Regions from separate parts of the Homo sapiens genome. Here region 2 is linked to region 1. Evidence: fine-mapped expression QTL. A gene starts in region 1. The other region holds a variant in brackets. All regions are shown on one strand. Distances are from middle to middle.

Region 1 (4,518 bases):
GGGGCTGTGTATACAGTCTAGAACACAACAGTCCAATAGGATTAGAGCCTGAAAAGGACAAATGATATTTGGTGTTTTGTTTCAAAAAGTGCATAATTCATTTTATAAAGATCCTCCCCCCACATGATTTGAATTTCATATAATAGTGTTTTTGTGTCTAGTCACAACCTGGAACAACATTCCTAAGGGACTCTACACCTGCAACCAAGGAATCATTGATTTACTAGGAGATCTAACTCTAGCTGGCTACTCTTTGCTTCTTACAAATGAGCTCTGTCTTTGACTACTTTTGCAGAAACCACGTTGGTGGATCCCAAGGAATTTCTCCTTTCCAGGAGGAGCCAAGGCAGGATAGCCTAACAGTTAGTTTCCTATACATCTCATGAAAAATAAATCTGCGCTTTGGGAGGCTGAGGCGGGTGAATCACGAGGTCAAGAGATCGAGACCATCCTGGCCAACATGGTGAAACCCTGTCTCTAATAAAAATGCAAAAATTGGCTGGGTGTGGTGGCTCACACCTGTAATCCCAGCACTTTGGGAGGCCGAGGCGGGCGGATCACGAGGTCAGGAGTTCGAAACCAGCCTGGCCAACATGGTGAAACCCCATCTCTACTAAAAATACAAAAATTAGCTGGGCGTGGTGGTGTGCACCTGTAATCCCAGCTACTGGGGAGGCTGAGGCAGGAGAATGGCTTCATTGAACCCAGGAGGCAGAGGTTGCAGTGAGCCGAGATCGTGTCACTGCGCTCCAGCCTGGGTGACAAGAAAGACTCCGTCTTAAAAAAAAAAAAAAATTAGCCGGGCGTGGCGGCGCGCGCCTACAGTCCCAGCTATTCGGGAGGCTGAGGCAGGAGAATCGCTTGAACCGGGGAGGCGGAGTTTGCAGTGAGCCGAGATCGTGCCACTGCACTCCAGTCTGGCGACAGAGCGAGACTCTGTCTCAAAATCAATCATTCAATCAATCTGCTCTCAGTGTCTCGAGGCGGGCTTTCACCAAACGTCAACCTCACATCTATTCCGCGACCGGGTCAGTAAGGAAGGGCCCAGCGGTCGTCGAACTACCACAGCTATTTCGGCCCCGCCCCGTCCCGCCCCCAGCTTTGGACCCACCCTTTCCCCCGCTTCTTGCCCTCTTGGGAGCTCTGTTCCCCTTTGGCATCGCCCGGGGACACCAATTAAATGCAGCTTCACACTGTGACTGCCCCTGGGAACCCTCATTTTATTTTATTTATTTATTTATTTTTGAGAAGGAGTCTCGCTCTGTCGCCCAGGTGGAGTGCAGTGGCTGATCTCGGCTCACTGCAACCTCCGCCTCCCGAGTTCAAGCGATTCCCCTGCCTCAGCCTCTGGAGTAGCTGAGATTACTGGCGCGCACCAACACGTCCAGCTAATTTTTGTATTTTTAGTAGAGATGCGGTTTCCCCATGTTGGTCACGTTGGTCTCGAACTCCTGACCTCGTGATCTGCCCGCCTCGGCCTCCCAAAGTGCTGTGATTACAGGTGTGAGCCACCGCGCCCGGCCGGAACCCTCATTTATTCTATTTTTTTTTGAGACGGAGTCTCGCTCTGTCGCCCAGGCTGGAGTGCAGTGGCGGGATCTCCGATCACTGCAAGCTCCGCCTCCCGGGTTCGCGCCCTTCTCCTGCCTCAGTGTCCCGAGTAGCTGGGACTACAAGCACCCGCCACCACGCCCGGCTAATTTTTTGTATTTTTAGTAGGGGCGGGGTTTCACCGTGTTAGCCAGGATGGTCTCGATCTGCTGACCTCGGGATCCGCCCGCCTTGGTCTCCCAAAGTGCTGGGATTACAGGCGTGAGCCACAGCGCCGGGCCCGGAATCCTCGTTTTAAATAAGGGCCACGCCGGAGTTTGATTTTGAACTGATCGGCCAACGCCACCTGGCAGCATACTGTACTGCTTAACTACGCTTCCAGCTTCGTCCCTCGCCAGGTCCCGCCTGGATCCTGCGCCCCGCCCCCGTCCCCACACTCTACGCGCCCCGCCCTCCGCGCTCAGCCGACTGGGGCCTTGTAAAGGAACCGGAACCCGGCGGGAGAGAGCCCCGGGGGCGGGGTGTACGTGGTGCGGCACTGCGCGTGCGCGCGAGGCCTCTTGCGTCATTTAGCCGCGCCTAGGTTTTCCGGCGCCGGCCCTAGGTCCCGGCAGCGGTGGTGACGGCGGTGCCGGAGGTTGTCCTTGGCAGGTTTTCCTCGGCGCTTCTCCATGGAGGAGGCGGTGCGAACGGCTTCAGCCCCGAATGCTCGCATCTCCCACTGGACGGCGACGAAGGCGGTGGCCGTGCGAGCGCAGGACTGGGCGGCCTGTGTGGGGGTGTGAGCCGCGGTGCCCAAGGCTGCGCCGGCGAGGGGAAGCCGCGCGGCCGGCCGGCCGACTAGGGTGAGGTCGCCACTCCTTCCTTTCAGGCAAGCGCGAAGGGGCTGACTTGGTGGCGAGCCAGCCCGCCTTGTGTCGGAGAAGGGTTCTTCGGGCAACTTTCCTTTCCGGGTGTTCTGAAGCGGTTTTCCTGTAATCCTCAGTGAGGAAACCCACCGTGAATCGGATTGCCGTTCAGTCCCACGGAAGCCTGGCTCGTTGGCCATGTCGGGGACGCATGTTCATTAAGTTCATTAAAATAATTTCATTTGTCTTGGTGAGTTTTAGAAGGTGGCTTCAGCTGCTGCGGGGATCATAACTGACAGTTAAACAAGCCTTAGAAGTCTGCTGTGACGTTTTGAGCCTGACTGTTTTAATTTCCTTTTATAAAATCACGGAATCCTATTTCCCTCTCTATACAATTGCTCAAAACTGTGTGTTTAGTTTGGTGTTTGTGCCTCCTTAATTTCTTTTCTAGGTTGTTAGTTCATTTAATACAGGACTGCATGTTAAGTTCTGTTTCTAGAAATCCTGTGTATAGCCATGTGCCCGGTTAATACTTTTTTTAGTAAGAGGAAATATCAGAGTCGAGAGTTTCCATTCCAGTAAGCTGCCTGTCGAAGCAGTAGTTGTGCTCGATTGAGTAGGTTTTATGTTGATTGGTTGGCAAAATGAGTATGAAGGCTAGTAACCAAATTATAAAACGTACTTAGTAACTTTAAGTCTTTTGCCTACTTCTGTGTTTTCTTCTTTCTAGGCTGGAGCTACTCGGCCAGGGTTTAAGACTTTAAATGAGAATAAAGGGTGGTATTTACGAGGAAATGAGAGTGAATAAGTCATCTCTAACCTCTCCCAGCCTTTTTTTCATAAGAGAGACCATATTAAACTTACATGTAAGTTAAAATTGTAATTTATAACTAATATTGTTGCATAGTTAGGGTTGGAGATTTAGGTTCTGTAATATTTATAAGTACAGTACTGCTTTGAAAAATTATTAGCCAAGTGAGAGGTTGGAAAAAATTAAATCTAACATGTATTTAATTTTTCTGAGCCAAGGTCTTGCTCTGTCCCCAGGCTAGACGGTGCAATCTGGGCTCACTGCAACTTCCGCCTCCCGGGCTCAAGTGCTCCTCCCACCTCAGCCTCCCCAGCAGCTGGGACCACAGACGTGCGGCACCATGCCTGGCTAATTTTTGTATTTTTTTTAGAACCGGGGTTTCACCATGTTACACCGGCTGGTCTCCTAATTCTGGACTTAAGCGATCCAACCACCTTGGCCTCCAAAGTGCGGGGATTACAGGTGTGAGCCACCGAGCCGGGCCTAAGCTAACTTAGATAGCAGTGGAAACCAGGTAGTAAAGATTTCGTAGAAAACTAAGAGCTCTATATATAGTTTTTTTTTTTGTTTTTTTTTTTTTGAGATGGAATCTTGCTCTGTCACTCGGGCTGGAGTGCAGTGGCACGATCTCTGCTCACTGCAACCTCCGCCTCCTGGGTTCAAGCGGTTCTCCTGCCTCAGCCTCCGGAGTAGCTGGGGTTACAGGCGCCGGCGACCACGCCCAGCTAATTTTTGTATTTTTAGTAGAGACGGGGGTTTCACCTTGTTGGCCAGGCTGGTCTCTTAACTCCTGACCTCAGGTGATCCGCCCGCCTCGACCCCCCAAAGTGCTGGGATTACAGGCGTGAGCCACCGCGCCCGACCTAAGAGCTCTAAAGTGTTAATGTAATGTGGGCAGCCGGGTGTAGAAGTAAAGTCCCTTTCTGTGTGGTCCTCTGCATGTGACTCTTTTTTACCCCTGGGAGGTTTCCTTAGCTGTAAAGTGATACCTTCATCTTATTGCGTAGAAGAGAAATGAGTAGAAATGATGCATGGAATAGTGCCTGGGGAGGTGTTCAGTAAGTGGTAGCTATTGTTAGGGAGAGATAATAAAAAGAATTTCACATATTTTCAGAATGTTTTTAATAGGTAAATATGGTTTACTCATATTTAAAACACATGACTTTGAATATTACATTTTTTTATAGATGGTGTAAGCTTCATTTAAACTGATTTATTTGATTGCTATACATTGTGATATTGAACAGAAAGATAAGACTTCTGCAGAGAATAAAAGGTGGGGTGGGGGTGGGAGAGGAAATGGGAGAT
Region 2 (4,000 bases), 20 kb after region 1:
AAGTTTTATGAGAGGCTGGGCGTGGTGGCTCACGCCTGTAATCCCAGCACTTTGGGAGGCTGAGGCGGGTGGATCACCTTAGGTCAGGAGTTCAAGACCAGCCTGACCAACATGGTGAAACCCTGTCTCTACTAAAAATACAAAAATCAGCCGGGTGTGGTGGCGGGTATGTGGGCCTGTAATCCCAGCTACTTGGGAGGCTGAGGCAGGAGAATCGCTTTAACTTGGGAGGTGGAGGTTGTAGTGAGCCAAGATCACGCACGCCATTGCAGTGCAGACTGGGCGACAGAGCGAGACTCTGTCTCAAAAAAAAAAAAAAAGTTTTATCAGAGCAATGTCTTTGTTTTGCACCCTGCTGTATATCCTGATTCTAGAACAGGACCTGGTGTATAGCATGATTTGCATTTTTAAAAAGAGCAAGCTGGGCACGGTGGCTCACGCCTATAATCCCAGCACTTTGGGAGGCTGAGGTGGGTGGATCATTTGAGGTCAGGAGTTCAAGACCAGCCTGGTCAACATGGTGAAACCCCGTCTCTACTAAAAATATAAAAATTACCTGGGCATGGTGGCGCCCGCCTGTAGTCCCAGCTACTCGGGAGGCCGAGGCAGGAGAATTGCTTGAACCCGGGAGGTGGAGGTTGCAGTGAGCTGAGATCGTGCCACTGCATTCCAGCCTGGGCGATAGAGCAAGACTCCATCTCAAAAAAAAAAAAAAAAAAAAAAGGACCAAATGAAAAGGACTTGGGGGAAGAGTACCTTTACCTTCATGTCGGCTTCTTCTCAGTGATTTTTATTTACTGTCCTGGGATATAAGTATCTATTTAAAATTTTTATTAAAATGCCTTATGTCAGCATGAGCTAGATTTCTTCCGTTAGATTTACAGATATGTGTTGTTTCTAGAATGTTTCTAATTGACTTGGACTCTTACTGTAATAGAAATTTACAGACCCATAACCCTTATTAATAAATTGGAGAGGCTGGGCGCAGTGGCTCACGCCTGTAATCCCAGCACTTTGGGAGGCCGAGGCGGGCAGATCACGAGGTCAGGAGATCAAGACCATCCTGGCTAACACGGTGAAACTCCGTCTCTACTAAAAATACAAAAAAATTAGCTGGGCATAGTGGCGAGTGCCTGCGGTCCCAGCTACTTGGGAGGCTGAGGCAGGAGAATGGCGTGAACCCGGGAGGCGGAGCTCGCAGTGAGTTGAGATCACACCACTGCACTGCAGCCTGGGCGACAGAGTGAGACTCCGTCTCAAAAAAATAAAAATAATAAATTGGAAAAATATGGAGGTTACTAAATACAGTTGAAATAATATATAGATAGTGCATAAAATGCCGGCATTTCCAAGTTGAGTACATACATTCTTACCTGAGTTTTTCTTTTGTTGTCTGTCTCTAAGTGGGAGCTGGTGAGGTGGCCAACTTCGCTGCGTATGCGTTTGCACCAGCCACTCTAGTGACTCCACTAGGAGCTCTCAGCGTGCTAGTAAGGTAAGGACACGTTTTTCATGTAGAAACAGTAGTCGGTATCTTAGTTTCTAAAATATTCAGTACCATCTAATTAAATATGTTCAACACAATTTACATTTCAACAACCTGGAGAACTTCGCTTTTTACACTACGTAGTAATTGCTTTTAAAAAGTTACTTCTGTGCATAGGCAGGCTATTGATTTGTGGGAGAAAATGCTTTGTCTTGCTTGTATTCAGAGCCAGTACTAGTTCTACTTCGATTTCAGTTTTTTAATATTCAAAGTTGGCTGGGAACAGTGGCTCATGCCTGTAATCCCAGCATTTTGGGAGGCCAAGACGGGTGGATCACCTGAGGTCAGAAGTTTGAGACCAGCCTAACATGGTAAAACCCTGTCTCTACTAAAAATACAAAAATTAGCTGGGCGTGGTGGCGGGCACCTGTAGTCCCAGCTACTCAGGAGGCTGAGACAGGAGAATGGCTTGAACGCAGGAAGAGGAGGTTGCAATGACCCGAGATAGCACCACTGCACTCCACCCTGGGCTATAGAGCGAGACTCTGTCTCAAAAAATAAATAAATAAAAAATAAGTAAAATTCAAAGTTACACTCATCCCAGTATTTATCATTCAGTGCATGTGCACTTTGGTAGGGTCTGGTTGGTAATGAGTAGATTTCTTTTTCTTTTTTTTTTTTTTTTTTTTGAGGCGGAGTCTTGCTCTGTCGCCCAC[G/A]CTGGAGTGCAGTGGCACGATCTCGGCTCCCTGCAAGCTCCACCTCCCGGGTTCACACCATTCTCCTGCCACAGCCTCCCGAGTAGCTGGGACTACAGGCACCCGCCACCACACCTGGCTAATGTTTTGTATTTTTAGTAGAGATGTGGTTTCACCATGTTAGCCAGGATGGTCTCGATGTCCTGACCTCGTGATCCACCCGCCTTGGCCTCCCAAAGTGTTGGGATTACAGGCGTGAGCCACTGTGCCCGGCCAATGAGTAGATTTGCATGCCTGGCCTGGAGTGCTTGTTTTGAATGAGTGATCTGAGATTTGTCCCATTTCTGCTTTGTAATGATTAGCCCAAACAACTAAGCCCATATTGATGTCTGGATCTTGGTTACTATTCCCAAAGTAGATTGACTGATTTTTATCTGTTTTTTTTTCCCCAAAAAACTATATGTAAAACAGGGTTATGGTATAAGTCATTGCCCTTTACCCTTAATTTTCTTTGTAGTATTTTGTTACTGTATTTATTGGTTTATGCTGTATTTTCTTTTTAGGTCTAGATAAAACTAGCTACAAGTTATTAAAACCTGATAATGTAATAGGCAAATTATATACAATTAACAACATAAGAGGGGTGCATGCATCAACCAATAGGAATAAGTTGAGTAAATTTTAAGCACTGGTGGTTTGGATAGAGATTCTTTTTTTTTTTTTTTTCCTTTGGAGATGGAGTTTCACTGTGTCACCCAGGCTGGAGTGCAGTGGCGCGATGTCAGCTCGCTGCAACCTCTGCCTTCTAGGTCCTGCCCCAGCCTCCCGAGTAGCTGGGATTACAGGATGCCCGCCACCATGCCTGACTGATTTTTGTATTTTTAGTAGAGATGGGGTTTCACCATGTTGGCCAGGCTGGGCTTGAACTCCTGACCTGAGGTGACCCGCGCACCTTGGCCTCCCAAAGTGCTGGGATTACAGGCGTGAGGCACTCTGCCTGGCCTGGATATAGGTTCTTAATTAGGATATAAATGTATACAAATTTGTTCTTTATTATAAATTTCATACTGACTTCTTGCAGTGGAAAGATGGTAAGTATACAGGTGTAGTGTATGATGAAGCAGATGATTCCCTAGAAATGTTTACATTTTATGATGAAATGTATACTTTTTTTCCTTGGCGAAAGCCAGAATCTTCATAAGTTCACAGTGTTTTAGTTTGATTTCAGTGATTTAAATTACGAGTTTTATTGATATTTGAAAAAGGAAAGTAGCTGATTAAAGTTCTCAATTTTTTTTCCTCCCCATTTTAGTGCCATTCTTTCTTCATACTTTCTCAATGAAAGACTTAATCTTCATGGGAAAATTGGGTGTTTGCTAAGTATTCTAGGATCTACAGTTATGGTCATTCATGCTCCAAAGGAAGAGGAGATTGAGACTTTAAATGAAATGTCTCACAAGCTAGGTGATCCAGGTAAGAAAAAAGTCTTATTAGTCTTACTGTATTTTACTTTTTAACTTAGTTTTTACTTTAATCGAAATTTGATGAGCACATAAGGAAAGAAATTGTTCCACCTGGTAGAAGAACAAATTGTCGTCATGTTCCCTGCTCCCTCCTATCAATCCCAAGCCTGTGTTTCTACTGTTCTTTAACTCTGTGTTTGTAAGTAGTGTGCGTATATTGCTACTACTTACTTCCTTAGCTTTAGGCATTATCTGTTTTACCTTTTATTTACTGTACCTATATAGTTTTCTTGAGATTGTTTACATTATCATTGATACATAACTTTTATTGTCATCTTAGTCTTTATTATGGTTGT

What was found. PIP is the estimated chance that this variant, and not a neighbour inherited with it, causes the effect. A credible set is the group of variants that fine-mapping cannot tell apart.
Region 2: its variant is the best candidate, but not a certain one, in a credible set for the expression of NIPA2 in monocytes (TOPMed, PIP 0.52).

The regions. Positions count from the first base shown.
Region 1 is chr15:22,836,526-22,841,043 of GRCh38, forward strand. It overlaps NIPA2 (NIPA magnesium transporter 2), which reads left to right and starts at 2,141. Exons shown (of 8, transcript NM_030922.7): 1 at 2,141-2,396; 2 at 3,130-3,265. RefSeq lists an enhancer at 2,038-2,267.
Region 2 is chr15:22,857,136-22,861,135 of GRCh38, forward strand. It overlaps NIPA2 (NIPA magnesium transporter 2), which reads left to right. Exons shown (of 8, transcript NM_030922.7): 6 at 1,405-1,495; 7 at 3,494-3,654. Among named protein-coding and RNA genes, the nearest start is that of NIPA2, 20 kb to the left of the region's middle. The variant G/A (reference allele first, on the strand shown) is at 2,203.